Linked DNA regions of Homo sapiens. The protein of the gene in region 2 interacts with the protein of the main gene of each other region in a pairwise test. Each region holds a gene or a part of one and is shown on either strand. Other genes may lie near its edges.

Region 1 (7,764 bases), on a different chromosome or scaffold from region 2:
GCAGATCACGAGGTCAGGAGTTCGAGACCAGCCTGGCCAACATCGTGAAACCCCGTCTCTACTAAAAATACAAAAATTAGCTGGACGTGGTGGTGCGTGCCTGTAATCCCAGCTACTTGGGAGGCTGAGGCAGGAGAATTGCTTGAACCTGGGAGGTGGAGGTTGTAGTGAGCTGAGATCACACCACTGGACTCCAGCTCTGGGCGACAGAGCAAGACTCCCTCTCGGAAAAAAAAAAAAAAAAAAATCCAATGAGTATTTTCAGTGTGTCCGATAGATGCCAAATTATTTGCTTACTCATTGCCTGCTGTGTATCAGACACTACCATGGCTGGGGCCACAGGGGAAGGCATCATCCTTGCCAACACTTGAGAGTGGACAGTGTGCTGATGGGAAACAGTGAGGAGTTTGCTGCAGGTACTGCGGAAAGGGCTAAAGAAAGAAAGTCTCCGGAGTGGCAGTGACCTCAGAGCTGGGTGGGGCTTGCCAGACCTAGGGTATGGGGGCTGGCCCACAAGTGTTTAAGGACCTGGAATGTTTGGGGGCAGCCAAATTCCCCACAGCGGGTTAGTGGTAGGAGAGGAAGCTGGGGTAAGGGATGCTGAAATGAGTTGGGTTTGAGACAGTGCTGAATTTGAGGTCCCAAAGACAATCTCTTTTGTTTAAAAAAAAAAAAAAAAGCCAGGCCATGGTATCATGTGCCTGTAGTCCCAGCTACTCAGGAGGCTGAGGCAGGAGGATCATTTGAGCCCAGGAGTTTGAGGCTGTAGTACACTATGACTACGCTGTGAATGGCTACTGCACTCCAGCCTGGGCAACACGGGGAGACCCTGTCTCTTTAAAAAAAAAAAAAAAAAAAGTAATGCTTTCTGTTTGCCAGGCACTGTTCTAGGTGATCCCAAGGAAGGTGCGATTATCATCTTCATTTTACAGCTGATAGAACTGAGGCATAGAGAAGTTAAGTGGCCCCGAAGTCATGCAGCTAGAGAATGAAGGAGCCTGTACTCAAATTGAGGCACAGAATGTCTGAACCACTGTTAACCACCACACTCCCTGTGGAGGGTTCAGGAGCCTGTGCTCAGGTGGGGAGAGGTGACAGCAGATCTGGTGGCTAGCTAAGAGCTACTACTATTTATGGGCATGCATTGTGGACAAGGGAGTGGCTGTGTCACCTTGACCACATCCTTTGAAATCTAGTACCTGTGACAGCGAGGACCATGAAGGTGTAGGTCTCAGGCTGCTTTCAGGATGAAATGAGAAGCTGTTCTGCATCCGTGTTCTGATAGCAAAGGTACCTAATGGTGATATGATTGAGCACTTTGAATGGGTCAGTTTCTGTGCTAAACCCTTGACCTGAATTACCTCATTTAACCCTCCCAACACTGGGAGGAGGCTACAATTAAGAAAAGACCAGGCACAGAGAAGTTAAGTAACTTGCCTGAGATCACACAGTTAGCATGGGACAGAGCTGGGCTCAAGCCCAAGTCTGTCTAGTTCCAGCTCTGAAGCTCAAGTGTTTTTTTTTTGTTGTTTGTTATTATTTTTTTTAAGACAGAGTCTTGCTCTGTCACCCACGCTGGAGTGCAGTGGCATGATCTTAGCTCACTGCAACCTCCACCTCCTGGATTCAAGTGACTCTCCTGACTCAGCCTCCCGAGTAGCTGGGATTACAGGAGCACACCACCATGCCCAGCTAATTTTTTCTTTTTTTTTTTGGAGACAGAGTTGCTCTTTTGGCCCAGGCTGGAGTGCAGTGGCACAGTCTCAGCTCTCAGTAACCTCTGCCTCCCAGGTTCAAGCGATTCTCCTACCTCAGCCTCCCAAGTAGCTGGGATTACAGGCACCCTCCACTAATTTTTGTATTTTTAGTAGAGATGGGGTTTCGCCATGTTGGCCAGGCTGGTCTTGATCTCCTGACCTCGCGATCTGCCTGCCTCAGCCTCCCAAAATGCTGGGATTACAGGCGTGAGCCACTGCGCCCGGCCAATTTTTGTGTTTTTAGTAGAGATGGGTTTCGCCATGTTGCCCAGGCTGGTGTTGAACTCCTGGGCTCAAGTGATTCACCTGCCTTGGCCTCCCAAAGTGCTGGGATTACAGGCGTGAGCCGCTGTGCCCGGCCACTGAAGCCCACACTCCTAATCCCTGCTGCATACAGCCTCCCTGCCATGAGGAAGGATTGGAGCTTTGGTAGTTTTCAACAGGCTGAAGGTTTGTAACAGTTGAAGATTGGGACTTTTTAATTTCCATGTTGCGTATTCTATAAACAGGAAAATGACAATGACTAGACCTGTCCTTTTCAGGAAGAAAACGAGGTGGTCAGTTTTTAGAGTAGGAGGCATTAAGGCTGGCAGAGAACCTCCTCAACCCATCAAGTGGGGAAGGTGGTTCATGATGCCAGGAGAACATAGGTCTCTGAGTTTAGGTTTTGTAAACTAGAGTGTGTTTTCCTCTCCCTGGGAAAGATAGAGCCAGATAGATGTTTCTGGTACCTGGAGCAGAGGGATCTGTGAGAATCTTTTGGTGGGTGAATGAAGGAACTTTGAATGCCACATGAAGGGTCCCACTTAACCCCAGAGGTTGGGGCCAGGCTGCAGTAGAGCACGGTCGAACCTCAGTGTTCGCTCCATGCAGCTTTATCTGCCTTCACTGAGGTGGTCTGAGGACCACCCTGCATCTTCAGGAATGTCTCTGGAAGGAGCCAGGATACGAGGCTCCTTGACCAGAGTATAGGCACAGGAAGCCAGGGTTACTTGGTAAATGGTAGGGCCTAATCCTGGCTTTGCAGCCTGAAGCGCTGGTTCTGGGATAGGTTTTATCCAGCAGCTCTCTGACCACACAGAATCACTCAGTGTGTCTGATACATAAAAGATGCTCAGTAAATACTGTAGGGGCCTATTATGTGCACCTTTGCTCATTCAGCTACATGCTTTGAGGAGAAATAAAGGGCAGGGGGAAGGGAGCGGTAGATAGGAAGAAAAGTAGTTCAGGTGATTCTGTCTGCCTTTCCACTCAGCAAGTATTTGTCCCTGGGTGGCTGTGCCTGGGGTTTGTGAATCTGCCAGCCCCTTCCTTGACTCTTGTTTCTATATACCTTTCAAAGTGTGGGCATTCTGCCACACTGAATGAGGTACAGTGTTTAAAAACAAATGGTTTGGCCATGCGCGGTGGCTCATGCCTGTAATCCCAGTGTTTTGGGAGGTCAAGGCTGGAGGATTCCTTGAGGCCAGGAGTTTGAGACCAGCCTGGGCAACATAGCGAGATCCCATCTCTACAAAAAGTTAAAAAATTAGCCGGGTGTGGTGGCATGTGCCTGTAGTTCCAGCTACTCAGCAGGCTGAGGCAGGAGGATTACTTGAGCCCAGGAGTTGGAGGCTGTAGTAAGCTATGATCATGCCAGTGCACTCCAGCTTGGGTGACAGGGCAAGACCCTGTTTCTAAAAAATAAATAAAAACACAATTACGTATAGCATGGCTTGAATACAAGCTGGCTGCTTACCAGGTGCTCAGGCGAGCTTCACCAAAATTGGAGGAAATACTGTTTTGAACCTTTTGAGAACCCATATGTTTGTTTCCTAAGCAAGTTTTTGGATAATCTTGAATTATACAGGATATTTTCCCTACATACTTGCTGTAGATCCACCCCTCCACCACTGTATCTGTTGATGACGCATTCAGCTTTTTGCCTCTGTTGCTGTGTGAACTGGGATTTGGCTGGGCTGTGGCCGCCTGCCTGGAAGGGCTACATAGCCTCATTTTGGCAATGTGCTTATGAATTGGCTGTCCGGCTATTCCTGGTTTGTTGAATGAGAGTTCAGAGGCAAAGCTGGTACCACCACGAGGTTCCAATTCCTCAGAGTCACGTTTCTTACCAGTGCCTATTCTCTTTTGTTCCAAAGAGGCCACTTTTGCTATGACCTCACCCTCGGGCATCCTCTTGATAACCTGAGCGTTAGTAGTGGGGATCATTGCGTTCCCAGAGAGCCCTGCCAGGAGGAGTAGCAGCTTAGGAATCTGTTGGGGGCCCCTGGCATTTACTTGGATGTATCTGAATGAAGGCTTTCCTGTTCTTGCACAACTTTCCTCTGCATTACAGTAGAGCCTGTGTGGTGTGATCAGTTTCTGTTCCAAATGCTCATGTCAGCCCCAAGCAGGGCTTCTCACCCTCAGCACTGTTGACCTTTTGGGTTGGATAATTCTTTGTCCTGAGGGGCTGTCTTGTACATTGTAGGACGTTGAGTAGCATCCATGGCCCCCATTCACTCGATGCCAATAGCATCCCTCACACCAGGTAGTCATGATATTCAGTGTCTCCAGAGTGGGAAATAGTGAGTTACTGATGAATGGGCACAGAGTTTCTGTTTGGGGCTATGAAAAAGTTTTAGAAACAGATGGTAGTGATGGTTGTGAATGTAATTATTGCCACTGAATTGTACACTTAAAAATTATTAAGATGGCAAACTTATCTATTTTACCACAATAAAAAAATGTCTCCAGACATTGCTAAATGCCCTGTGGGGGCAAAATCGCCCTCCAGTTGTGAACCACTGGCCTAGAAGTTCTCACTAGTGCATCATTATGGGACATTACCCACTGGACTGAAGTGTTGCTACTATTTATCCCTTCCTTTTGATTTCATGTGTCAGGTTAAGGATTTTAGAATTTAGCCATTTCTCTTTAAAAATATTGTGGTAAAAAATACGTAGCAAAATTTACCATTTTAACCATTTGTAAGTGTACAGTTCAGTGGCATTAAATACATTCACACTGTTGTGCAGCTGTCACTAGCCGAATCTCCAGAGCTGTTTCAGCTTCCCAAAGTGAACCTCTGTACCCATTAAACACTAGCTCTTCATACCCTCCTTTCCTGGCCCCGGCAACCACCATTCTACTTTCTGTCTGCCATTTCTTTCTTTCTTTTTTTTTTTTTGAGAGTCTCGCTCTGTCGCCAGGCTGGAGTGCAGTGGCACCATCTCAGCTCACTGCAACTTCTGCCTCCCGGGTTCAAGCGATTCCCCTGCCTCAGCCTCCCAAGTAGCTGGGACTACAGGTGCCCGCTACCACGCCCGGCTAATTTTTTTGTATTTTAGTAGAAACAGGGTTTCACCATGTCGGCCAGCATGGTCTCAAGCTCCTGACGTCGTGATCTGCCCTCCTCGGCCTCCCAAAGTGCTGAGATTACAGGCGTGAGCTACCATGCCTGGCCTCTGTCTGCCATTTCTTTATTCTTTTCCCTTAGCGTCTAGCAGACAGTAATGAAGCTGCAGAATTCTTCTCTGACTTCTTTATGGATAGAAGGTATGTTACTTCAGGAAAAAAGCAAGCAAAACCCAAAAATGTAGTGGATATATTGGCTTAAAAAAATCTTGAACCCGGTCTCTACTAAAAATACAAAATTAGCTGGTTGTGGTGGTACATGCCTGTAATCCTGGCTACTTGGGAGGCCGAGGCAGGAGAATAGCTTGAACCTGGGAGGTGGAGGTTGTGATGAGCCAAGATCGTGCCATTGCACTCCGGCCTGGGCAACAAGAGTGAAACTCCGTCTCAAAAAAAAAAAAAAAAAAAAATTCTTGATGCAAATGATATAACCTCTGGAAGGGAATTTGGCAATATCTAGCAAAATTTCAGTTATATTTACCCATTGATCTACCACTTCCACTTCTCTGTATCTTGATATATTGGCAAAAATATGAATAGTTGTAGACAATAGGCCATGCGTTGCAACACTAATTATAATAGCAAAACACAGGAAAGAGTTCAGGTGTTCGTCAGTAGAGGATGAGTTCATCATTGTGAATGAACCGATTCGTCTCTGCAGTGGAACATCCTGTAGCTCTAAGAAGGAATGAGGACTAGCTCTGATATGCGGTATCTAGAATGGTACTGACCAGTGTAGTAGCCATATGAGGCTATTAAAATTTATATGGATTAAAATTAAATAAAGATTCAGTTCTGTCATCTTGGAAGGTTCTATTGGGCCACGCTAGTCTAGAACAATGTGTAGTATTCCATGCTACCTTTTACCTATAGGGGGATATAAGCACATATACATAGTTATATACATAATACACATGTTTATATAAAACAAATATGTTTATATACACCTGTGTATACTTGTTTATATTGAAAAAATGGAAGAATATACAAAAAACTATTGGAAATATTATCTCAATGGGGAGGAGGGACAAGGATGGAAACTAAGTATCTTTGAAAGTACCTTGTTTTGTAAATTGGATTTTGGAACTAGGCAAATGTTTTACATACTTATAAAATAAAAACAATTCAAAATGATAAGCCCTCCTCCCCCTACCCCCTAACTTCTTGGTGCTTTTCCCTCCCCTTTGAAAAGCCCACCTGCTTGTGTACTTCATGCTGGAATAGTACAGAGTACTGAATAGTGGTCAGTCCCTCCAGAGATCAGTGAAAACTTTGCTCCTGCCACCCTCTGGTGGCCCTGCCAGCACTTTCATCTAATACTTAAATTGTTTTATTTGGTTGCTTGTTTGTTTGTTTGAGACAAGTTCTCATTCTGTTGCCCAGGCTAGAGTGCAGTGGTGCAATCATGACTCACTGCAGCCTCGACCTCCCAGGCTCAAGTAATCCTCCTGCCTCAGACTCCCGAGTAACTGGGACTTAAAGGCACATGCCACCACGCCCAGATAATTAAAAAAATTTTTTCTGGAGACAGGATGTCAACTGTGTTGCCCAGAGTGGTCTCAAACTCCTGGCCTCAAGTGATCCTCCCACCTTAGCCTCCTAAAGTATTGGGATTACAGATGTGAGCCACCGTGCCGGGCCTAAATTGTTAATTTGATAATAGCCTCTGAAACAGAGGGAGAACAGTGCACACAAGCAAGTTTAGGTTTCGCTGTGGGAATTTACATTCTTTTTTGTTTTTAAACCCCAAAGATGTCAAGATAGTTACTTAAAGGTTTTTGACAAAATCCCAAGGAGATTATTTCTGTTCTATTAAAACATGTAATACATGGAGAGAAAATATATCTTTTGCTTTTTTAGCAAGAGGGTCCTGAGAGAGTTAGGAGAGGAAGTGAAGGGTCAATGGAGGCCATGTGGTCAGCTGGGAGAATGCAGCAGCCAGGATGTTATTGACCACAGCACAGGCTGACATTGAGTGGGTGCAGATCTTTGGTGGAATTCCAAGCATGTTGCACACCTGACCTCACTTTATGACTCTGGGAGGGAAGGGAGGGAAACTGAGGTGCAGTGAGAAGGGGTGATCGGTACGAACTTCCTCCTTCACACAGAGGAAGAAGAGCTAGAATGAGAACTGGAATGACTGGCCCTGAGGGGCCTGTTGGGGCTGCACATGTGCCTGGTCAGAGCCTAGACCTGCCCATTGAGTGTGTATGAATCACTGACTTCGCAGAGCTGGAAGGGTTCCTTGTTTCAAGGACACCGAGACTCAGATGGAATGGCTTGTCCAGGGATAGTGACGGAATCGGGACTAAGAATATGAGTAGCTGCCATTTAAGGGCTTTCCATATGCCAGGAACTGCCAGCAAACACTATGAGATAGGTACTGTCAATCATCCGTGGTGAGCTTGAGCCCATGCACTTCATGGGCTACGCCACTGATCCTTTAGTGTTTGTTCTAAGCTTCCAGTCATGTGAAAAACTGCCCATTAAACTTGGTTGGAATGATATAAAATACTGAGTATAGTACTTTTTTTAGATGGCTCCGGAGTCACAGAGACCTGGGTTGAAATTCCAGCCCTTGTACTTGTTTAAGTTTGTCACCTTGAACAAG
Region 2 (7,764 bases):
TATAACTAATATCCCTGAGTATTTCTGGCTATTTACATCAAATAGCCTATTTTGTGCATCTGAAATAATTTTTAAAAAATCATTCTGAGGTATCATATCATTATAGTTGCTTGAGAGTTTAGTCTTTCTTGTGCAAATAAACTATTTCAGCCAAGGAGTCCATTAAATTGAAAGTGCAAGCTAACAGTCTAAGCAACACAGACTGATTCTGATCCTGTGATGTGTTCAAAGTTTGTGATATCCACACATAGGGTGCACATCAGCAACTGGGATAAAGGAGAGGATGCTGTGACTATGTCATACAGATAACTGGATCATCCAATGATCTGCTTCATCACTAAAATTAGCAGCAAGGAAGGAAAAGTCCCTTTACCCATTTGGGAGAGAGAAAGACCAGGCCAACTGTTGGATGCCCCTATTCCTCCCTGCCATCCATGGAAGCCATGTCACGAAATCCTCCATCTTTGTATAGACACAGGAGTCTGTGAGCATGCTAAAACTAATACAAACGGACTTAGAGCCACCATATTACTGGTTTTAACCTAAATAAATATGTGTAATGAGCAAAATGGGCAATTAAAAATTCCTAAATAGTGGGCTTGCTCTTATGTCTGTTTATAATCTTCAGGCTTTTAAAAGAAAACAAAACATTGCTGAGAATTTTAAGACAAAGCCATAAAATACCAATCCCTCCAGCCCTCTATAATGTTAAAGATCAGCGAAAATAGTGGAACTTCAATTGTAAGCAGCTTATTAGCACTCTCTCCTTTTTCTCCCTAAAATTATTTTAAAAAAACGTAGTATTCTTTACATCCGTATTTTGTGGAGGCTTAAAGGAGGTTGGTTCTTCACAGTTTCCATATTTCCTTTTGTGTGTGTGCATGTGTGTGTGTATAATAATAATAATAATTATTTTTTTCAAGAGACAAAGTCTCACTCCGTCACCCAGACTGGAGTGCAGTGGTGTGATAATAGTTCACTGCAACCTCGAACTCCTGGGCTTAAGCAATCCTCCTGCCTGAGCCTCCCAAGGAACATGGACTACAGACATGTGCTAGCACACCCAGCTAACTTTTTAAGTTTTAGTAGAAAAAGGGTCTTGCTCTGTTGCCTAGGCTGGTCTTGAACTCCTAGGCTTAAATGATTCTCTCACCTCGGCCTCCCAAAGTGCTGGGATTACAAGTGTGAGCCACCGTGCCCTGTCTCCTTATGTACATTTTGAAACTTTAACTTCTTCTAAAATTGTGTGAGAGACATTCTAGGGTTTTTATCCTGGGAAAGAATATGGGAATGTTAACATTGAGAATTATCTCCTAGATATTGTTTTGCAGTTTTCTCCATGTTTCCTTACATTTTTGTCAAAGTCTATAACAATGACTTCTCTGTTGTTTTTGGTTGGAGGATAGTGAATACTGTTTTTTCACACAAAGAAATATGGAAAAAGCGTGTGTGTATGTGTTCATGTGTGTATGCGCATGTCTTGTGTGTTTGTCTACATATGCATATCTTGCAAGTTGCATTTAGTTGTCTCCCTTTGACAGCCTCTCCCACTTCTATTCCTTTGTTTGGTCCCCACTGTTGCAATCAGTATTGGTTTGCAGACTTTGGAACTTTTTCATTTTTGACTTCTCATTTACTGAGCAAGGAATGACAGGAGCCATACTAAAAAACATTCCAGAGGGGAAAACAGATGGTTTCTTCATACACACAGGCTGTTGTCTAGGCTACGGATACAAGCAAGGGCTTGGATTTCTGTTTTGCTGGGTTACCTTCCCTCCAATGCAAGTACCCATAAGGGATTGCTCTGCTGAGCTCCAACCTCGTCTGCATCTGTTCAACAATGCTGTAGGGTAAGTGCAATTCATACCATAGGCAACTTCCATAATTACTATGATTTAGAATGGATTATTTCATTTTCACTTGAAACTGACCTAAGGATTAATGTATTACAATAATTACATGATTTGTGGTAAAGGAAATGGGTTTTGGCTTCAAGAGAAGATTGCTGAAAGCAGGCCCCACTCTTTCAAGTGCATCCATTTGTTTTAGCTCCTCTAGGATGTGAGGGTTTGGCTTTTAGGAACTATGTTCCATTAAGTAGGTATCTCTTTTAACCAGGATGGTGTTATGTGTAGGGAAAAACAAACCCACCTGTGGAGTTGAGAGCATGTCCAGGCTCCAGGAACACATTTTGCCATCAGTGGAGACAGTGATGAGGTTATGAGCATTCTGGGTCCCAACAACATTTACACAGTACACGGGATGCTGCAAAAACATAAACAAAGAGGATCAGAGACAGATCCAAGAGGAAATGCTTACATTTGAGTGTCAAACACATTACTCTAAAACAAGGATTAAAGAGTAACATAATCCTACTATAATACAAGCGTCAGGTCATTTGCCGCTTTTGATTTGAACCTGATTTCTTTCTAAAAGCTCTGGCAGCAACACATAATAGTGGAAATACTTATAAAGCTTCACCTTGCTCAGTCAGAATGCAATGCAGTGGAACAGAAGGACGCTAGAACAAATGAGGTTTGATGGGGCAGAGGCAATGCAGGGAGGTGAATTTGAACTACTTGAATAAGTCTCCACCGCATAGTTTGGCTTCTAAGCTCAACAAGAGTGATGGAAAAAGACAGTCTTCAAAAGGGTAGAACTACTGACTTTTGGAAGGAATACATGTTACTAAATCTGGAGTTTAATGCATTATAGTCACAATGCCAAACATTTGTTAACATTCTTTATAAAAAGTGGTTAATATTCATAACCATTTTAATCTGGGGGAGAGATACTAGTGGTGAGATTATTGGCACAATGTACCTGGTGAGATAAAATTAGGTTCTTCTATGTTACTGCAAAATCTAGGATAATAATATATTTATTTTTCAAAATACCGTTTGCAGTAGTATAGAGGCTTAGATTTGGCCAGGGCATTGAGAAAGGTCATTTATACATCCCAGGAACCATACACAAGATGTTGTAACCCTCTGTCATACTCTAGTGGGTTATCCCACTCTGCAGAATTCTAAACGGTAGGCTAAAATCATTTGCAGCTGTGTATTAAACACAAAATGGAAGGTTACTATGAGCAGAACCTACAGCAATTTGGGTTAGATTTCAGGCAGTTCAGCCACCAGTGGCCAAACCACACTTACTTGGTGCTTCTTTGTGCAAATAGCTGACAGTATCAGTCTTACCCTTGGTGAGTTACTGTCCATAATACCTAGCCACAACTACAATGAAACAATATTTAATATTGGAAAGTTGCTATTGTATAAAGGATGGTTCCCAAACTATTATTATCATATAAACTGCTGGTCAGAAGGAGTGGTAATAATCATCTAATGTAGCTACTCATCTGCCTCAACCAAGAGGTGGTCCAAACTCTGCTTAAACACCTTCCTTAAAGGGCAGCCAGTTTTCGTAGTATCCTGGGGGAGTTTTTTCTTCCACTAATGGGGATAAAGAAAGTTCAAGGAGATACTTCCAGTGCAGTGCCCTGTGGGACCAAACCAAACTAATCAAGTCAAAACAGTACAGCTTTTTGAATATTTATAGATAGTTGTTCCCTGTTACTCCTCTCCCTGCCAAATCTTTTCTTACCCAGACTGTCACTAATTCCTTCATCTGTTCCTTGGGTACCTGGTTTTCAAAACCTTTCCTATCCTGGTGAATCTCTTTTGAAAATGCTGTATTTTGTCTGATTCCTCTTCCAGTGAGGTTCTGAGAATAAAACAGAACTGTCTACCTATATTCTGACCAGCAGAATATAGAAACCTGGGTAGCATTGAATTATCACTTCTCATGTGATAAAAAATATGCCTGCATTTAATGCATGCTAAGATTACATCTGCTTTTTTGACAATTATATCACCTCTTTCCCCCGTGCTGATGGACAGTCAGCTAAGTCCCTATGTCTTTCACACCATGTCCCTACTGAAACTTCCAAATGAGTCAGCCTTAGTGGATCTGCACATAGTAAGTACAGCAGAGATCTGAAGCTAAATGTTATCCCAATCAGTTCTCTAAGTATCAGGAAGGCTGACTGGTTGTGGGATTGTAGGCAATGCTCTTTCCCAAGTCTCTGGTGTATGTAGAGCCCCAGGCAGTGTATTATCAAGCCCGGAGCCACACAGCATGCTAACCTCTGTGTGGAAATCAAATGGAAGATTGGATGTAACAAATTTTCACCTGAAAATGGTATAGACTTAGTAAAACTGAAGAATGGGAAGGCAGGGTCCAAATACTGTTATGAACCTGAAATCCATCTTGTTTTTCAACAAGAGTCCAGTGGGGCTTCTTTGATAACCACTGAGCATCAACACAAATCATTAAACACTAATGGATTAAGACTCAGAAAGGTCCAGCAGAGAAAGAAAGCAAGTCTAGAAGAATGTGTAGAGCCATGTGCCCGGAGAAAGTGTGTGTGGCAGCCCCTCCCAGGCTTTAATCAGCACTACTGGCCTGTGCTTCCATGAGTAATAAAACTCAGTTTAAGAGAAAAAAGAGGTGTAATGAAACCAAAACAGAAGCAGACACTGGAGCATGCCTACACACACACACACACACACACACACACACACACACACACACACACAACTCTACCATTAAGGAAGAAGAAAGCTACAGTATACCCATTTTTCCAGTATAGATGCCAGATTGTTTTTATTTATCTTGGAAATAAACTTACTGTGTGCCTGAGGGATTTTGTTTTACTTATGATTTCCTGTTGTCTCAAATGCATATGTGTGGTGGGTGTGAAAGGAAATTAGTGAGTAATCTGTGGTGGGCCTCTTTTTCCTTTTTGATCCTGGTACCAATCAGTCAGCCAATAGTGAAAGTTGAAAGACAGTCACAAAATTAACTGTTCACTTTTAGCTATAGATTAGAGAAAACAAACAAACAAAATCCCCCTGAAAAAAACCAAAACAACAACAACAACAACAACAAAACAGCAAAAGCGAAAAGTGGACAAGTTTTGTTTCTTTTTCCTTTCTTTTTCTTTCTTTTTTTTTTTTTAGAGGAAGTCTCCCTCTGTTGCCCAGGCTGCAGTGCAGTGGTAAAATCTTGGCACACTCCTACCTCTGCCTCCTGGTTTCAAGCGATTCTTATGCCTTAGCCTCCCAAGAAGCTAGGATTACAGGCGTGCACCACCACACCCAGCTACTTTTTGTATTTTTAGTAGAGACAGCGTTTCTCCATGTTGGCCAGCCTGGTCTCGAACCCCTCAAGTGATCCACCTGTCTTGGCCTCCCAAAATGCTGGCATTAGAGGTGTGAGCCACCATGCCTGGCCTATTTTATTTTCTAACAGAAATAACATCAGTAAGTTTGATAATAATAGTATTTTAGTTGTGATGATCACACTCTAAGTTACTCACAAAAGAAATGTTAATTTTTTGGAAGAGCTCCTGGTTTTGAATTTTCCCCAAAAGCTTACTGCTAAATGTTCTAACATTTGGATTTACAATTTTGGAAATTTCAGAAGGTATGTTCAGAAATACACCAGCCATCCAAACAGGGCCAAGGCATGGTTTCACACTACTTCACCAAACACCTGCATCAAGCCCACCTTCTCCTGGGCCACAATTTTCTGTTATTAGTTTGGGGAAATGGGGCAGGCAAGAGCAATTTCCCAAGATTCCCAAGAACTAGTTTCACCTGCAAGTGTCTTTGGCCCCAGTCAATCAGAATTGGGGCTGACTTGGTATTTGTCATTTCCCATTGATAATCTTACAAGAGTAGGAGATTTTTCCTCCTCATGGACTTAGCTAAACAGCTGGCAGTCCTTTTTCATGCCAGAGTGCTTTTGAGTCCAGCATATGAAACAAATGCAGCAAGCACATTAAGGAAATTGAAAACAAGAGTAAAGCTGTATCCTTGGGCATAATTTGGGCATTTCAGAGAAAGAACATCAGTTACCCTGAGTGTCAAGGTAGCAAGGATTGATGGAGACACGCCTGTCTTCTCATTCCTCTGAACAATTGCTGTACACACCTGTCATTCTTTTAAAGGAAATGACAGAGTAGTTGTCTTATGAACACTATACTGAACCTCTTCTACTAAATTATGGGTAATGGTTTTGAGATGTTGACTTTTAACCCCAGGGATTATATTGTCACTGTAGACTTTATGTTGAGACTTACACCACACATTCCAGAATTTAAAGTCAAAGTACTCTCTCAAATCACACATGGAAAAGGCCAGTTGGCAAAAGTCCCATATATCATCCCTTGATGTGAAATCCTTACTCTTCAGGATCTATTTGAAAATACGTGTTTCCACCTTATAATGTAAATGCATAGGGTTTCTTTGGGAAAACAATTCCACAGATGCCTCTTCCAAGGTTTCTCTTCACTGGTGGCCTTTGGGAGAGCCAAGGAGATCCTCCCTACATGCTAGCACATGTAGGTTATTAAGAGACATCCCTAAAGCCAGTGCTTCCTTCATCTACTTTTCACTCAACTTTTAGCTGGTCAGGATTCAATCATAATAAAGTAGATCCTCCTAACTTGGCATTACTGAAAACATCCATACTTTTTTGAGTAGAGTTATTTTCTCTTTCAGGGCCTGGCGGCTCACAGGGATATGGCAAAAGTTTGCATTACCGTGTGTGCAGCAGCTGATAAGGGTGTCCGCTGCACTGGAGTCCTTCGATGACTGCGATTGTCCCAGAGGACAATCTGGCCCGAGTAAGTCCCACCAACCACCAAGTTAGGATGGAAACGGGCGAAGCAGACCGACATCACAGAGGACTGTCAGGGAAAAGGAGAGAGAGAGAGAGATGCAATGTGAAATGGTTGTAGGTGACTTGTTTCTTCCTGAAAACAGTTCATCACATAAACTCAACACATCCTGGAAAACAAAAAAATAATTTAAAGCTGGGACTGTAAAAGTGCATAGTTACTAAGAAATTTTGTACATAGGCACAGGACTTTCTTTGGAGAGGCTGACCAATGGTTACTGCTTGAAATCTGAAATTTGAAGTCCTGTCCATTTTATCAAATAGGTATGAAACCTATCTTAAGTACATCATTGTTTTGTGGTCTGTAAATCTTGCTTTATGGACATTTCCCATTTGTCACATAGAATTGCAACAGAACTAATATTAATTCTCCACTAAAGCCTTTACTAAGCAATTCTTTACTTTGAGAGCATGGCCACATCAAGTTACACAATTTGCAGTGTTGGTAAAGGCAGAGTAATTCTAGATTCAAGGCCTTTAAGATGAGGTCTTCTTTTTGTTTTTCCCTTAATGTAGACTTCCAGGAAGTATACTGACCTCAGACTGATCCAATTGGCTCCTCCTAAAATTCCCTCACCTCCCATGGGCATTCTTCCTGATCTTAATTCTGCCCACTTCAGAAAATTCTTAATGTTATTCCTTGCCTATTTTAACAAACAACCAGAAATGGATCTCAGTCCAGCTCTGCCATGGTCTGTCATAGTCTGTCACAAATGTGGTTTCTGAAGCTCCATAAAAGACTACTGGGCAGTACATTTTGTAGGAAATTACTTAGCTGAGATAGAACCATAATGCACTTAAAGTCAGAGAAGTAACTGTTTTGCATCTGCTAAGACCATTTTGATTCCTACGGTACTTTTCATATTTGCATTTATAAGCTAAAGTAATTGTTTTTAGTCAATACATTTCATGCCTTAATTAAATTAAATGAAGTCACTGAGAACTTACCATGTATAAGGAAGGCACTGTACCAGGAATGGTAGGAATAAAAGGGTAGTCACTGCCCTCAGCAAATTT
Region 3 (8,118 bases), on a different chromosome or scaffold from region 2:
CTCCTAATCCAGAACCACAGATTATTGCAACTTGAGGTCGGTGCTTAGTGTGAGACAGAAGCCATTCTGCAGTGTTCTTATAATCTTCATAGGTGTATCTGGGGGAGAAAAAATATCAAGGTGAATTCTGCTCCCATTCCAAGGGCATCACAGACAAATGACCTTCGGTGCAAAAAGGCTGGCAGGTATACTGAGGCAGCAGGGACGGAGAAGCTGGCACAGAGGGAAAGGCCATACTATGCTCTTCCATCTACTCAGCCACCCTTCTTTCTGAATCAAGCCCACTACAAGTCTGATATGAAACTACCTCCATTCTAGAGCCTGGCAAAAGTTAATAAAGCCTGTTTCTACTAACAGGCCCAACTCCAGTGTTGGATCCACTGAACACTGGCAAGCTGCATACTTATCCTTATGACAAAGGTTTAGAGAGGAAGGGGCCAGAGTGTACGGGGAAGTGCAAGGAAATAATCAAATTAGGGAGGGTAAAAGGGCTTGGCCAGGAGGGAGCCCAAGAAGAGTACTCAAAATGGGATTAAGCCCTTCCTGAGGGTGGTGCCCACCTAGTAAAATCCCCCTTATTACCTTACCTGTTCCCCAAAGACATTCAAAATGTAATTAAGACCAACTACTATGAAGGCAGAGATAAACTCAAATTTCCTTTTGAACCCTCATTCCTCCAGTTCCTTCCTCAGCCAAAGACTTAAGGGCTACATTTCTTTTTTGTTTTAACCAATAAAACACAATGGGACCACCCCTGGTAGAGGTCTACGTGCCATTCTTAGCTCCCTGGATCACAAGGGGGTTAATTCCAGACAAAAAACTAGATAAACTGCTGTACAAAAAAGCAGACCCAGTCCACAGTACTGGTTGTCAAAGGTTAAACCAGGACTGACTACACAAATTCTCAGCAGAAGCTTGTTAGAAAAACAGATTCTGGCACTCCAGCCTGGTGACAGAGTGAGACCCTATAAAAAACACACACACACACACACACAAAACCCCCACAAAAAACAGATTCTGAAGCCCATGTAATTTTGATTTTAAAACCAGGTTTAGGGGCTGGGCGCGGTGGCTCATGCCTGTAACCCCAGCACTTTGGGAGGCCGAGGTGGGCGGATCACGAGGTCAGGAGATCGAGACCATCCTGGCTAACATGTTGAAACCCCGTCTCTACTAAAAATACAAAAAAAAAAAAAAAAAAAAAAAAATTAGCCGGGCGTGGTGGCGGGCCCCTGTAGTCCTAGCTACACGGGAGGCTGAGGCAGTAGAATGGTGTGAACCCGGGAGGCAGAGGTTGCAGTGAGCCAAGATCGCTCCACTGAACTCCAGCCTGGGAGACAGAGCGAGACTCCGACTCCAAAATAAATAAATAAAAATAAAATAAAATAAAACCAGGTTTAGGAATTGCTGGTCTGGAGGGAAGCAGAATTCGACCTAGATTCTAGTCCCAATATTGTCTTTTTAGGCATGTAATTTGTGCTTTAAATTATTTTCTCAGGTATAAACAAGGGATGTAAATTGGCCCCATCTATCTTATAGGCTCAATCTGAAAATGAATTGAATACTTGCTAACAACTTCCAAAGACCTATGGCTCTGTTACACAAAGTATTTGAATCTTTCTCCTGCTTTCCACCTGCCTGTGGTCTTCTTCCTGTCCTTCCCCCTCCCTGCCTCCTCCCAGTTTCCTTTCTCTCCACCGAGGATCTTTGCTCTTCAGAAACCTCAGGGCACTTACCCAGAACCCCTACACTAGCAAGAATCAACCCGTGTTACTTTTCTCCCAGTTCCAAGTCCAGTTCTCTCACATCCATCTGGGAAGACCAAACGTTGCTTTCAGAGGTGGCAATGAGGTGTGACAGAGCTGAACACAACTAACCAAGCTTTCACAGGAAATTTTTTACTTGGAAAGCAGAGCCCGGGAAACCAGACATGATTGCACAATACACCAGGCTACCCTCAGGGAAGCAGTTGGATCAGGTAGGTTGGGGGCTGGTCAACGGAGCCACAGGACAATGGAGAGAAGCAATTAAGCTGGTAAAATGTTAATCAAATGGCATCCCCAAAAGGTGCAAAGGAAATGAATGTGTGAAGCTGCCGCCACATGGCATGTCTAGCCACATCTCACAGCACTTCCTCATTGGCTATCAGTCCCCTCAAGAACACCCTGGCTCCCTGGGCATCCAAAAGCAACTGTGATGCCTAATGCAGGTCACTTGGACTGGGATATCCAGGACCCAAGCCGAGAGAAGAGTTTTCAAAGGCGTGGGGTGGGGGAAGTGAGCACAGGACTGTTGCTCAGTTCGGTGACTGATTTCCGTCTCCACTTAGCAGTCACTTCCCACCGAGTTAATCATACTGCCAGTCTGGAAGGAAGGGAGGAGTGCAACTGGCAAAGGAGGTGAGTAATCTTGCCTCTAAAGGAGGAACTCCGAATTTGAGCACCAAAAGTACCTCGCAGCTTTACCCAGACCCTAGCATGGGAATTTATGAAGAGCGCAGGGGGTGAGGAGACCTCCTCCTGGTATGGAGTGAGGGATATATACATATACTCACTCTCCACTTGTTCCCCTAACACACACACGGAGACACACAACGGCTGCTTTTACGGAGTAGCTTAGACCGCACCGACCTGTCCCCTTCCTGCTCCGGTGGCGCCACCCCAGCTCGATTCCCGCGTGCGTCCCTGCCCGCGCTGGCTGCCGCATGACTCTGCCGCCTTGCTCCCGACACTAGGCTCAGTGCCAGGCCTCTCTGCATCCCCTGGGCGCTCGCTCCCTCCGCCAGCTCCCTCTGGGCCCAGTGTGCCAGGTTCCCGGGTCACAGCACCTGCCCCTCCCCAAGGGTCCTGCGGGCCTGGTGCCCTCCTCACCCGTTCTCCATGGTCTCGCAGACGCCTTCTCGATGAGCCTGCTCCGGTGTGCTCCGATCCGCTCCGATCCGATCGGATCCGCTCCGCTATGCTGAACTGAGCAAGGCTGCCGGGTCTGGTTCGCACAGTTGGCTCACTGGTCTAGGCTCTGGCTTATATCCCTTGCCCTGGAGTCCCCAGCCAATGGCAAGCGAGCACGCGGGCCGGCCCTGTCTCCATGGTGACACACCCTAATTCAATCGGCTGAACCTGGGCTGTAAACCTAATCAGAGTTCTTCCCAGCCCTAAACCTTCTGCCCCGGGGCGGGCGGGGGGAGCCGGAGCGCACCCAGCATTTCATCTCGGTACCCATTCCAGTCCGCAGGGCAGGAGTTCCCAGCAAGAAGGCCTATGCGGAAATAGGGCTAGAAGTAGGGAGGAGAGCCCCCAGCCCTCTCCTTGCAACCTCATTCCAGCTGTGTCAATAGCAAACCGTGAGAGATTCAAAAAGGAAAAATTTCATACCTTAGATTGTACAACCCCAGAATAAAAATGAAGCGAGACTGTGTCTGAGTTGCTCCCTGGACAAGGGAAGCTGGGTCGCCCCCGGCAACAGTGCTAACTTGGAGGATACAGGGTTTAGGAGAGCACATCCAGGCCCAGACCGGGAGAAGAAAAAGTTCTCAGGCAAGAATTCCGGGGTCCTAGATGCCGACAGAAAGGATAAGGATGGATTTGGTGGGTAGGGACACAGATAATCCCTTGATCTGCGCAATATTGATCCAAGCAATTCAGGTAACTAGAGGACTCCTCCCACGAAGAAAATTCTGTTATCGGAATACACGGGTACCAGAATATAACATAAATAGCGTGTCTTTGGTAGAATACAACTATTACTTCTGCCCACATTTACAATTTAATTTTTACATTTAATTTACATTTTTACATTAAATTTACATTTAATTTTTAATTTAAAAAATTAAAAAAAAATTTATATATAAAGGCCAGGCGCGGTGGCTCACGCCGGTAATCCCAGCACTTTGGGAGGCCGAGGTGGGTGGATCACCTGAGGTCAGGTGTCGGAGACCAGCCTGGCCAACAAGGCAAAACCCCATCTGTACTAAAAATACAAAAAATTAGCTGGGCGTGGTGGCAGGCGCCTGTAATCCCAGCTACTTGGGAGGCTGAGGCAGGGAGAATGGCTTGAACCCGGGAGGTGGAGGTTGCAGTGACCTGAGATCACACCATTGCACTCCAGCCTGGGCAACAGAGTGAGTAGCTGGTTCCTGAGAACTTACTAGCACTTTGAAAATAACAATGCACACAAATTGAAAAAAAAATTTCGTTCTTAAATAACCACAAACAGTTACTTACGGGATATGTACATCTGTTTGGCACTACTCAACTTCTCACATGCAGGAATCCAATGCTGCCACCCTCATTTTCTGTTCCATGCTGATTTTTACACAGTACTTTTTTTTTTTACTTAATACTTAATTTTTATCAGAGGGACCTTCTAAAACCATCTTTTGTAAAGATATGTTGTCTTTATATATATATATATTTTTGAGACAGGGTTTCACTCTGTAACCCAGGCTGGAGTACAGTAGCACGATCTTGCCTCACTGCAATCTCTGCTGCCTGGGTTTGAGCCATTCTTTTGCCTCAGCCTCCCGAGTAGCTGGGATTACAGGTGCCTGCCACCATGCCTGGCTAATTTTTGTATTTTTAGTAGAGACGGGGTTTTGCCATATTGGCCAAGCTGGCCTTGAACTCCTGACTTCAACTGATCTGCCCACCTCGGCCTCTCAAAGTGCTGAGAGTATAGGCATGAGCTACCACACCTGGCCAGATATATTGTCATCAAAAGGAATGTAGCACAATCTAATGTTCCAACTGTGAATCACCTCAAGTTAATAGGTCACACAGTGTTTAAGAAATATAAAATATTGCTGTGTTTCCTCTGAAAATTAAAAATATTCCACAATACCCTTGTGAGCTTGTACTTTGGCACAGTTTGGGAACCATGGCCCCAGTCACTCCATGCCACCTCATTCCTGAATCTATGTAGTGTAAATGAATGGGCTCTAATAAAACTACCTGTGTATGAATGCCATCTTCACCCCTTATTTACTCGTGTGATTCTAGGCAAGTAAAATTCTTATTATGCTTCAATTTTTTCATCTGTAAAATAGCAATAATCTTAGTATTTTTGCAAGGATTATACAGAATACCTTTTACATGTTTAGGTAAATGCCTGGATATATAATAAGCACACATTAAATGCTGGCTATTATGATTAATCTCCATTGTCTCTTTCTCTTTTGTTCTTTCTAGACTCACCTAACCATAAATTGAATCAAAATAAAAACTAGAGGTATATCCAGCCTATCAATACCAATGAATCCCACACTGTTCAAAACAGAAGGCACTAGCCATGTGTGGCTATTTAAAAGTAATAAAATTAATTAAGATGAAATATAATAAAAATAATTCAGTTACCTAATCATACTAATTACATTGTAACTTCTCGATAGTCACATGTGGTTAGTGGCTACCATATTGCATAGCATAATTACGTTTTTATGCTAGAGCACAGCACTGTTCTTATCTTTTCTAGTCACTGCCACCTTGTATCCACATAAAAGAAACTGGAACTGTGCTTTATTATTTACTTTTAGGGTAAAAGAGTTCCTGTAGCATTCCTATAGACAGGAACCAGACGATCATCAATCTTAGTGTGATTAGAGTTCATTAATGCCTTATTACCTTTTCTTCTATCTTCTCATCACTTCTATCTTCAGAGGGACTCCTTGTCCAGGAACATACTTAGTAACACACTTACCCTCCACCCGCAAGATCAAGGAAACTAAAAAAAAGTGGCAGGAATAGGTTCTAAGTCACTCAGTATTGCCTTGTGGAACGTATTTTATTCCTGCCCTCTCAACTGAGATCTCTTATTCTCTCTAGATCACAAGCTAAATATGCGGTTTTAAAAATATCTATCCCTGGCCAGGCACAGTGCCTCAGACCTGTAATCCCAGCACTTTGGGAAGCCAAGACAGGAGGATTACTTGAGCCCAGGAGTTTGAGACCAGCCTGAGCAACATGGTGAAGTCTCATCTCTACAAAAAATACAAAAATTAGCCAGGTGTGGTGGCATCTGTGGTCCCAGCTACTAGGGAGGCTGAGGCAGGAGAATCACCTGAGCCCAGGAAGTCAAGGCTGCAGTGAGCTGTGATGGAGCCACTGCACTCCAGTCTGAGTGACAGAGTGAGACCCTATCTCAAAAAATAAAATAAAATATCTACTCCCCTTATCACCATAATCTTTGGTCTTCCATTTTCTCCAATTACTGAAATTAAAACATTTTAGGGTTTTTCCCTGTTTTTTTTTTGTTGTTGTTTGTTTGTTTGTTTTTAGATAGGGTCTCGCTCTGCCACCCAGGCTGGAGTGTAGTGGCTCAATCTCAGCTCACTGCAGCCTCAATCTCCTAGGCTCAAGCGATCCTCTTTCCTCTGCCTCCCAAGTAGCTAGGACTACAGGCACGCACCACCGCATTCGCCTATTTTTTATTTTTATTTTTTTAGAGATGGGGTATCTTCATGTTGCCCAGGCTGGTCTCAAACTCCTGGGCTCAAGTGATCCTCCCACCTCAGCCTCCCAAAGTACTGGGATTATGGGCATGAACCAGCACATCCAGCCCTTCTCTTTCTGTTATAGGGATCACTTTTATTTCTCTTTTCTAAGAGTGAGACTTCCATCTGTGCCTCACTCAGTGGCAGGAAGAACAGAGCAGAGATAAAGGACTGGCCTACCACCCTCTATTCCAAAGACCTTGGCTCCTAGAAAGGGAAGCCAGGAATTCCCTAAAGGAAAGAGCAAAGAACTGAGGCCCAGGAAGAGCAAGGAGCACAAGGGAGCAAAGTCCCAATGTAATTAACGTAAATTAATTCTTTAAAACCAGGTCACACCCTACCCAATCCCACCCAACCCCCGGCAAACTACCCCTCGTCTTAGTTAACTCACTCTGCACATTACCAGAAACTTTCTGTGCCTTTGAAATGCAGTAAGGGATTGTGTTGTTTTCACACAGGTGGTAAATTACCACTTCAGGAAAGAGGAAAAAAGAAATAGGGCATGTGGAATATGTGAAAAAAAAGAAATCAGATTGGGACACTTTGGGTCATAGAAGCCAAGCAGATGTTTTCCACCCCATCCTCTGGCCATGTACACACTGTACTAGTTATCACTTTGTTGGAAATCTAAAGAAAAAAATGCTTTGAAATCTATTCTATTATATAACACAATGAAGTGTGTTCCCCCAAATTCTTATATTGACGCTCTAATCCTCATTGTGACTATATTTGGAGATAAGTCCTTTAAAAAGGTAATTAAGTTTAAATGAGGTCATAATGGTGGGGCCACAATCCAATAAGACTGTTGTTCTCATAAGAAGAAGAGAGGCCAGGCAGGGTGGTGCTCACCTGTAATCCCAGCATTTGGACACCAAAGCAAGAGGATCACTTGAGCCCAGGAGTTAGAGACCAATGACCAGCCTGGGCAACATAGTGAGACCCTGTCTCTACAAAAAATTAAAATATTAGCTAGGCATGGTGGCATGCACCTGTCATCCCAGCTACTTGGGAGACTGAGGTGGCAGGACTGCTTGTGCCCAGGAGTTCAAGGCCGCCACAGACTATGACTGCACCACTGCACTCCTGCCTGGGTGACAGAGTGAGACCCTGTCTCTAAAAGCACGGAAAAAGAAGAGAAAGAGGAAGAGAAAGCAAAAATGTGTGTAGAGAAAAGGCCATTTATGCCACAGTGAGAAGGTGGCCATCTGTAAGCTAAGGAGAGAAGCCTCAGGAGAAAGCAAACCTGCCAATATCTTGATCTTGGGCTTCCAGACTCCAGAGCTGTGAGAAAATAAATGTTTGTCGTTTATGCTATCTATAGTGTTTTTTATGTCCTAGCAAATTAATACACCTCAATAGCCTAACTGTTCTCAATCTAAGTGAGAAGATCCCACCCCATAGGTAAAAATCAGGCAATACCTGAGACACTCAATATTTACCAGAGATAATATTAAAATGGCTTATCTGTAAAATACAGGTACCAACCAATCAGAACCAATGGCGCCATAAACAACCAATGCCAGCCACCCTGTAGTGCCCCAGCTGAATATCCTCCCTGCTTGCAACTGCAGCTAACAATATTGTTCAGTACCCAGCAAATTTATCCCAAGATGGGGCTTAAGTTACTTCAT
Region 4 (8,061 bases), on a different chromosome or scaffold from region 2:
TTTTTTAACTTAAATATATTTACACTGTTAGAAACATGTTTCTTTTCCACTCTGGATGTTTTCTTCAACGCAGAGGATTGTTCTTTAACATTCCTGGCCTCTTGTCCTGTCAGTTATTCCTCCCCATGGAGGTGGAATGAGTTACCTGGTTGGTGGGTGATAACCATTGTTCTAACATCTCATTTGGGAGTCTCCCAAATGTGTTGAACTTGGGCTTTAGTTTCTCCTTCCCTCTCCACCCAAACCAATGAAAGGCACCAGCCTGAACAAGTGTTTCTCTCTGCTGACTCAAACTTTCTCTTGGATGACTCTTCCCAGGGCTGAACTGAATGGGAGTTAGCAAAACAAGGTACAATCATCAAACTGGTTTTTATCAATAATAAAGGTGGTATTTTGTTCTCTTTCTAATGGCTCTTTTTTCTTTTCATTTGGTTCAGAACTTAAGGAAGAAGGCACTATTTAAATGGAATCCCAAATAGCCCAGCATTCTTTCTTTTATGTTCCATCAACCAAGGACAGTCTTTCCTGACTTGCCACTTTGAAAACTAAGATCACTCCCTTCTCATTACCTCCACTCCCTCTTCCACCTCCCAGTTTCCCTCATTTGTGCTTTTACATTGTAAAGGTATTAAAAACCTTTGCTTTCTACTTTTAATAATTAAATACTCTCAGGCTACATAGATAGAATGCATAATTCTGAAGTATTCAAATATGGCAGGATTTTCAGGTGCCTGTCTATTCCTCTCAGACCTTGAGTTAATTCTAGCTGTGTAAGGCCAGACCTGGGTGTCAAAAAATACCTTTCCCACACTGTGGTCTGTATGTGATACCTCTAAAATAATGAACGGTCCCCTGCCAGAATTAATTCCCAAAGGTAATTTCTTTTCTATTTGCCTAAAAGGAGTTTCAAATATTTTTCTTAAAATTTTGATTCACTATCATATCAATGCTTAAAATATGTTAAATGATCATTTTTTCCAATTATATTGGGCAAAAAAGTGTACATGCCCAAAGGCAGATATTTCTAGGGCTTTTGTTATCTATTTTATACAATATACATATATATTATACATATACTTTACATTATAAAAGTTGACGTGTGTACATATATATGCGTACATATACTTTATAGCATTAACATTTAAAATAATGTTTGCTTTCTGGAATAAAAGTTATTTTATCCAAAAGACAGGGCATCAATTTTAAACCAGTTTTCTAGACTAAGAAAATCCTTAAGCATCTCTTTCAGAATAAGCCTCAAGATGCTGATAGCACACAACAAAATATAGAAGGACCCCTATAAAGAGTTAGTGGATAAATATTTAAAATCTTGTTCTTGGCCGGGTGTGGTGGTTCACGCCTGCAATCCCAGCACTTTGGGAGGCCAAGGCGGGTGGATCACCGGAGGTCAGGAATTCGAAACCAGCCTGACCAATAAGGTGAAACCCCGTCTCTACTAAAAATACAAAAATTGGATGGGTGTGGTGGCGGGCGCCTGTAGACCCAGCTACTCGGGAGGCTGAGACAGGAGAATTGCTTGAACCCAGGAGGTGGAGGTTGCAGTGAGCTGAGATCACACCACTGTTCTCCAGCATGGGTGACAGAGCGAGACTCCATCTCAAAAAACAATAAAATAAAATAAAACAAAACAAAATATTCTTCTTTTAACAGTAAGGTTTCTAAGTTTGTGCTGAAACTCAAAATATAGCTTTTAAAAATCTCCACCAGTGCAGCAAGCTTCAAGAGAAACAAAATGTATGACTCACCTCTTTGACAATATTGTGGGCTTCCTCAGCATTGAAGCCAACCTAAAGGGAAAACAAAAGGTAAAGCTGCTTTCAACACAGGCTTACAAGTATGACGCTACACAGAATATCCTAGGCTGGCCTAGACAGGTGTTAAAGTGTTAAAGGGCATCAGGTCTACAGAAGGGGCCAATCTTGCCCCTAAACACTTAAAAATACTGAATGCTTTCCCTACCTACCTCCCGTGAGGTCTGGGGCAGAGCCTGCAAGTCTACATTTTTTTTTAAAAAAGTGCTTTATACTGGTGATTCTAATGAACATCCTAGATTAAGAATCATTGTATTGTAAAACGTAGGAAATAAGCAAGAGGTGACTATGAGGATGTTATGTGTCATAAGAATATAGAAATGGTTTCAGCTAAGTGAGAGAATGAAGTGGTCCATATGAAGAGAATGCTTAGTAGACTATTTTCAATTTTGTTTTTAACTTATGCTAGGCAAAAATTTCTAGGCAAAAATTCCTTTCCCAAATTAAAGATTATGAAAATACTTGATAACTCAAGATTAATATCACTTTAGTACTATAAAGTGGTCTGACAACTTAGTCTTTTCTTTGGAGTCCCCATCAATAACAGGGAGATAACAACTGACATCATGGGTTTCTGGTGAGGGTTGGGAAAGCCTGAGTCAGTAAGCAAGGGCTCGTAATCCATAAAGCACCTCCTTGCCTAATCCTGGCAAGCATTACCGGGAGCGGGAATGGCAGTGCCACCAGGACCCCGAGACTCCGAGCCATGGGGGCTGCAGCACCCGCGCTGAGGAAGCCAAGGGACGGAGGCAGCAGCGGGAAGACCCGTTTTCGAGGCCCGCCCGGTAGGAGGGCGGCGCCCGTCACCCCATGCCCACTCCTCGCACCCAAGTCAGGCCTCGTCCTCCCAACCCTGCCCCGACCCCACCGTCTGATCCGCGCGCTCCTGGCCACCCCTCCCACCCCGAATCTCAGGACTTTGGGGTGGGGAGAACGGGTCGGGCGGGGCGGATCCCGGGCCCAGGGGAGAGGACCCGGGCTCGGAGGACGCCGCACCCCAACTCTTGGGACCGCCCTCGCTGGGAGACCACCCGGCAAGAGCCCCGCGCAGAGGAAGGCGGGAGTGGGGGGCGCTCCCAGGTAGCCAAGGGGCGGTACCTCGTCGCAGTGGCGATGGTACTCCTCCATGGTAGCGCCGGCTCTCCCTGGGGCGGAGCGACACGCCGGTAGAGCACCGCGGCCGCGCACTGGCCTCCGGGGAGGCCCCACCCCCGTTTATGGCCTAGGGCCTTTCCCTACGCAATCCCCGCCTTTGTGTCGCAGTGGCGTCACCTGGCAGCGCTGGGCGGGCTTCGGGCAACGCCAGGCGTCACTTCAGGCCACGCACTTTTTCCTCGCTTCCTCTGCCCTTTCTGGAAACAAGGGATGAATGTAAAGAACTGGGAATGGCGCCAGTGTGGATCAGATGGGGTGACCTAGTGGCAGTTAGTCTAGACTCCGCACTAGTGGTTGAGTGCCCACTGCTGTGATTACTTGCACGTATTTGTTCATTCACCATCATGTGGCACATAAATGTAGTTAATTTCGTGGTAAACCAGCCACTTTGATTTGTCCACTTACTAGCTATGTTACTTGGAAAAATTCACCTCCCACAGCTTCAGTTTTCTCATATGGAAACTTACCATCATACCTATTTCACTACTGGTTGTAAGGATCTGATGAGAAGCTGTATACACGGCTCCTAAAGTAGATGCTTCTCAACAAGAGAACAATGACTACATTTTAAAATAAATGTAGTAATTTTAAATTAGTAATTTTAAAATAAATGTAGTAATTTTAAATTAGTAATTTTAAAATAAATTACTAATTTCCAGATGATCCTAGACACTTCCTCAAAACCTCACAATAAGTCAGAGGAGTTAGTTCTTCCATCACTGCTTTTATCAAGATGAAACTGAGGTATAGAGAATTTAATTTGCCCAAGGTCATACAGCCAGTAGGGTGTAGAAAAGGGACTTGAGCTCAAGTAGTCTGATAGCAGAGCCCAAGCTCTTAACCACTGTATTACTTTCCTATTGCTACTGTAACAAATTACCGTAAATGTAGTGCCTTAAAGAAACACAGTCCTGTTCTCTTACAGTTCTGTTACCAGTGTAGGGTGTCCAGGTTCTTGGCTCTTTGAACAAAGAATTGGACAAAACGCACAAACAAAGCAAGGAAAGAATGAAGCAACAAAAGCAGAGATTTATTGAAAACGAAAGTACACTCTACAGGGTGGGAGCGGGCAGAGAAGCCGCTCAAGGGCCGGGATCCAGAATCTTCTCTGGTCCAAATACCCCCTAGAGATTTCCCATTGGCCACTTGGTGTGCACCCCATGTAAATGAAGTAGTGGCCCACAATCAGAGGCTGAAGTTACAAAGGCCACACTCCTATGCAAACGTCTGATTGGTTGCAAGAAAGCAACCATCAGAGGCTAAAGTGAAGTTACAAAGTTGCACTTCTATTCAAACAAAGATTTGGCCCATAATCAGTTTGATTGGTTGCAGACAGCAACCAATCAGAGGCTGAAGTGAAGTTACAAAGTTCCACTCCTGTGCAAATGTCTGATTGGTTGCTTTTTGCTCTTTGGTTGCAAAAAGCAACCAATCAGAGGTACTTTAAATTTCCCATCTGCCCTGCAGAAAAGGTGGGGATTTGCAAAGGGAATAGCCTCTGGTCCTTTTGTTACTTAGGCATGGAAGGTATGGAAGGTTAGGGTTTTCCTTTTTTTTTTTTTTTTGAGACGGAGTTTCACTCTTGCTGCCCAGGCCGGAGTGCAATGGCGCGATCTCGGCTCACCCACGGCAACCTCCGCCTCTCGGGTTCAAGCGATTCTCCTGCCTCAGCCTTCTGAGTAGCTGAGATTACAGGCATGCACCACCACGCCCAGCTAATTTTGTATTTTTAGTAGAGACGGGGTTTCTCCATGTTGGTCAGGTTGGTTTCGAACTCCCGACTTCATCGACCTCAAGTGATCTGCCTGCCTCAGCCTCCCAAAGTGCTGGGATTACAGGCGTGAGCCACTGTGCCTGGCCAGGGTTTTCCTTTCAATTTAGTTCTATGAAGTAAGCGTGAAACAGTTTTAAGTTCCCTGCCTCCTGACCCTATTCTCCTGCCTCAGTTCTGGAGGTCAGAAGTCTAAAATGGGCCCATAGAGCTGCATGCCTTCTGGAGGCTCCAAGACAGACTCTGTTTCTTTGCCTTTTCCAGCTTCTAGAGATTGCCTGCATTCCTTGGCTCATGACCCCTTCCTCCAAATTCAAAGCCAGTAGTATCTTTTCTCCTCTCTCGCTTCTGCTTCAAAGGAAGTGTGAGGCATCTCTATAAACGAGAGATGTATGACTCTTGCCCTCCTGTTTCCCTCTCAAGACCCTTAACTTAATCACATATGCCATGTGTCTTTTGCACTCTGTATCATATTCACAGATTCTCAGAATTCAGATGTGGACAAATTTGAGGGGGAGCATTATTCAGCCAACCACAACACTTTTCTATTTTGCTCCCCAGAATCAAAGTTGGAAACCATTAGTCTTCTAGTCCATCTCCCTTATTTTACAAGTAAAACTGAAGCTGAGAAGATAAAGTAACTTCTACAGGGCACATAGGTGTTAACTGGACTCCTGGGCTTCTGAACCTCAGGCTCTTATTTTATGAACTTAGAACCAAACAAGGCTGTTTACTTGATAGTATGGTGTTTGTTATTGGTTCTCCTAAGTTGTGGATCATGCAGGGTTACTGCAGAAAAGTGACTGTAATTCATAGAGGAAGCACATCCTCTTTCAAGAATTTTTTTTACCAAAGTTTTCATCCTATGAGCAACTCCGGCAGTCTATTCATGAGAAGGATTCGTAGTGTCTTTGTGAACATCAGTTTTATTTCCCTAAAGAACTGTTTCTATGCCTGGGTGGGTTAAACCCTGAAGTTACCTAATCTTAATACTGCAAGAGCTACACCAGCACATCTCAAGTTTGTGTTATGTGATCATTCATGATGCATATAAAGTGAGATGAAGAAGTGTTGTTCCAGTTACCATTCCTGTGTAATAAATTACCCCAGAATTTAGCAGCTTATTTACTATATTATGCTCATGGATTCGTTTAGTCAGAAATTTGAACAAGGCACAGCAGAAATAATTTGCCTCTGCTCTGTGATGTCTGGGGCCTCAGGTGGGGAGACTCAAAGACTGGAGGAAATTCAATGGTGGGGACCAGAATCATCTGAAGACTTGTTCATTCACATGTCTGATATCTGGGCTTGGATGAATAAAATATTAGCACTTCCAACTGGAGCAACAACACATGGCCCCACCGAGTGGATTGGCTTCTTACCATCATGGCAACCTTAGGGTAGCCAGATCTTTTACATGGCAACTCAAGGCTCCAAGCATGAGGGTTCCATCGAGCATGGCAGAAGATATGTCACCTTTTATCACCTAGTGTCACGAGTTACACAGCAGCCCTTCTACCATACTCTAATCATTGAAACATTCACTCAGATTCAAGGGGAGGGGACACATAATCCACTTCTCAATGGGAGAAGTGTCAAATAATTTGGGGCTCATGCTTTAAAACTACAAGTGGGTTTATTAACTAGCATCCTGTGGTTGCAAGTAACAGAAGACCCAAATAGGATGAGCTGAAATAATGGCATTTATTTTTTTATATAACCAGACTGATATGGTTTGGATCTGTCCCCAGCAAATCTCATGTTGAATTGTAATCCCCAGTGTTGGAGGTGGAGCCTGGTGGGAGGTGATTGGATCATGGAGGCAGATTTCTCATGATGGGTAGCACCATCCCCTCAGTGCTGTTCTTGTGAGAGTAAGTGAGTGAGTTATTATGAGATCTGGCTGCTTAAAAGTGTGTAGCACCTCCCTCCTCTCTCTCTTCTTCCTGTTCTAGCCATGTAATATGTGCCTGCTTCCCCTTCACCTTCCACCATGATTGTAAGTTTCCTGAGGCCTCCCCAGAAGCAGGAGTCACTCTGCTTCCTGTGCAGCTTGCAGAACCACGAGCCAACTAAGCCTCTTTACTTCATAAATTATCCAGTCTCAGGTATTTCTCATTGCTGTAAAGCAATGAGAGAATAGACTAATACACAGACATACAGAGGCAGAGATATTCCAGGTTCGTTTAGTTGCTCAACAAATTTTGGGGCTTCTGTGCTTTTCATCTTTCCATGCCAATATCCTCAGCATGTCAGCAACATTTAGCCTCATGGTCATACACGGCTGCATTAGTTCTGGTATCGCTAGGAACAAAGATATCACGTTCAGTGACTAAGATGAGCATTTTCTGGGGTTGATCGGATTTTCTTAGGAAAGAAAATCTTTATTTCAAGTCCTCAGGAGTTTTCTCCTCAGGTTCCAGTGGCCAAGATTGGGCCACGTGACTCCCCACCGGGCAAAACATATGGGACAACAAATGTTTGTTTTTTCATTCTGTATGGTGAAAAGTGAGTTCTGCCAGCAAGAAAAAAAAAATTGATATAAAGTAAATGTTGGTAGGTCAGTCCTTTCCAAACTTTTCCATGCTATGGCCCACATAGAGGATAATACTTACATGGTACATTGAGGTAAACTGGAGGGGCTTGGTGGGCATCTGTATGGGGCTTGGTGAAAAAATATTTTCATTACTTTATATAATTATATGAAAAAATAAAATAGAAAGGGTGTTAAAATTGAATTTTTTAAAGCTTCCAAATAAAACCTCTTTCAATGCTTTAGTGAGACCCTCAATCTTGGTTTCACCCATATAATATTTTATATCTGGCTCTACGCATTGAACAGCCATAAGCAATTCCTGTTAATGAGTTTTTAATAATTAATTTTCCCTAAATATGAATAAATTATATTGTCTAGAAAGGTTTGCCATAGAAGCAGCTGATAAAAAACATTTGGACCCACTTTACAAACCACTAAAATTATATTTAAAGACTTCTGTAATGGTAGACTATGTAATTAGGACCATCTCTTTCACTGATAATTACAAAGGTTGGACAAAATATAATAGACATTTGCTCAAGGGAATTGGATTTTTTAACAAGATAGGGAAGAATTATGGATCTAAGACATAGAATAATGAAACCCAGAAAGATGAGCATGGCATTTGGGATAACTTTTTACCTCGAGGTGAGAAGATGTTAAGCCTTTTGCTTATGGGCCAAGGGGTAAAATAATCAGACTGCATGTCCTGCCAAGGAAGATGATTCTGGTAAACAGTCTTGCTTTGGGTTGAAACCCCATGGATT

Evidence for each region.
Region 1: the proteins of DYNC1I1 (region 2) and FAM83D interact in binary tests that used the Homo sapiens proteins (3 or more experiments, as listed by UniProt).
Region 3: the proteins of DYNC1I1 (region 2) and PNP interact in binary tests that used the Homo sapiens proteins (3 or more experiments, as listed by UniProt).
Region 4: the proteins of DYNC1I1 (region 2) and DYNLT3 interact in a two-hybrid assay, tested with the Homo sapiens proteins (one study listed by BioGRID).

What each region holds. Positions count from the first base shown.
Region 1 is NC_000020.11:38,928,952-38,936,715, forward strand, and holds part of FAM83D (protein FAM83D), read left to right. Parts: intron 1-7,764.
Region 2 is NC_000007.14:96,027,168-96,034,931, reverse strand, and holds part of DYNC1I1 (cytoplasmic dynein 1 intermediate chain 1), read right to left. Parts: intron 6,758-7,764; coding exon 6,611-6,757; intron 2,266-6,610; coding exon 2,152-2,265; intron 1,851-2,151; exon of another isoform or gene 1,773-1,850; intron 1-1,772. UniProt on the Homo sapiens protein: Acts as one of several non-catalytic accessory components of the cytoplasmic dynein 1 complex that are thought to be involved in linking dynein to cargos and to adapter proteins that regulate dynein function.
Region 3 is NC_000014.9:20,464,288-20,472,405, reverse strand, and holds the start of PNP (purine nucleoside phosphorylase), read right to left. Parts: upstream 3,001-8,118; 5' UTR 2,882-3,000; coding exon 2,871-2,881; intron 99-2,870; coding exon 1-98. UniProt on the Homo sapiens protein: Catalyzes the phosphorolytic breakdown of the N-glycosidic bond in the beta-(deoxy)ribonucleoside molecules, with the formation of the corresponding free purine bases and pentose-1-phosphate.
Region 4 is NC_000023.11:37,844,551-37,852,611, forward strand, and holds the start of DYNLT3 (dynein light chain Tctex-type 3), read right to left. Parts: upstream 3,022-8,061; 5' UTR 2,961-3,021; coding exon 2,931-2,960; intron 1,809-2,930; coding exon 1,767-1,808; intron 1-1,766. UniProt on the Homo sapiens protein: Acts as one of several non-catalytic accessory components of the cytoplasmic dynein 1 complex that are thought to be involved in linking dynein to cargos and to adapter proteins that regulate dynein function.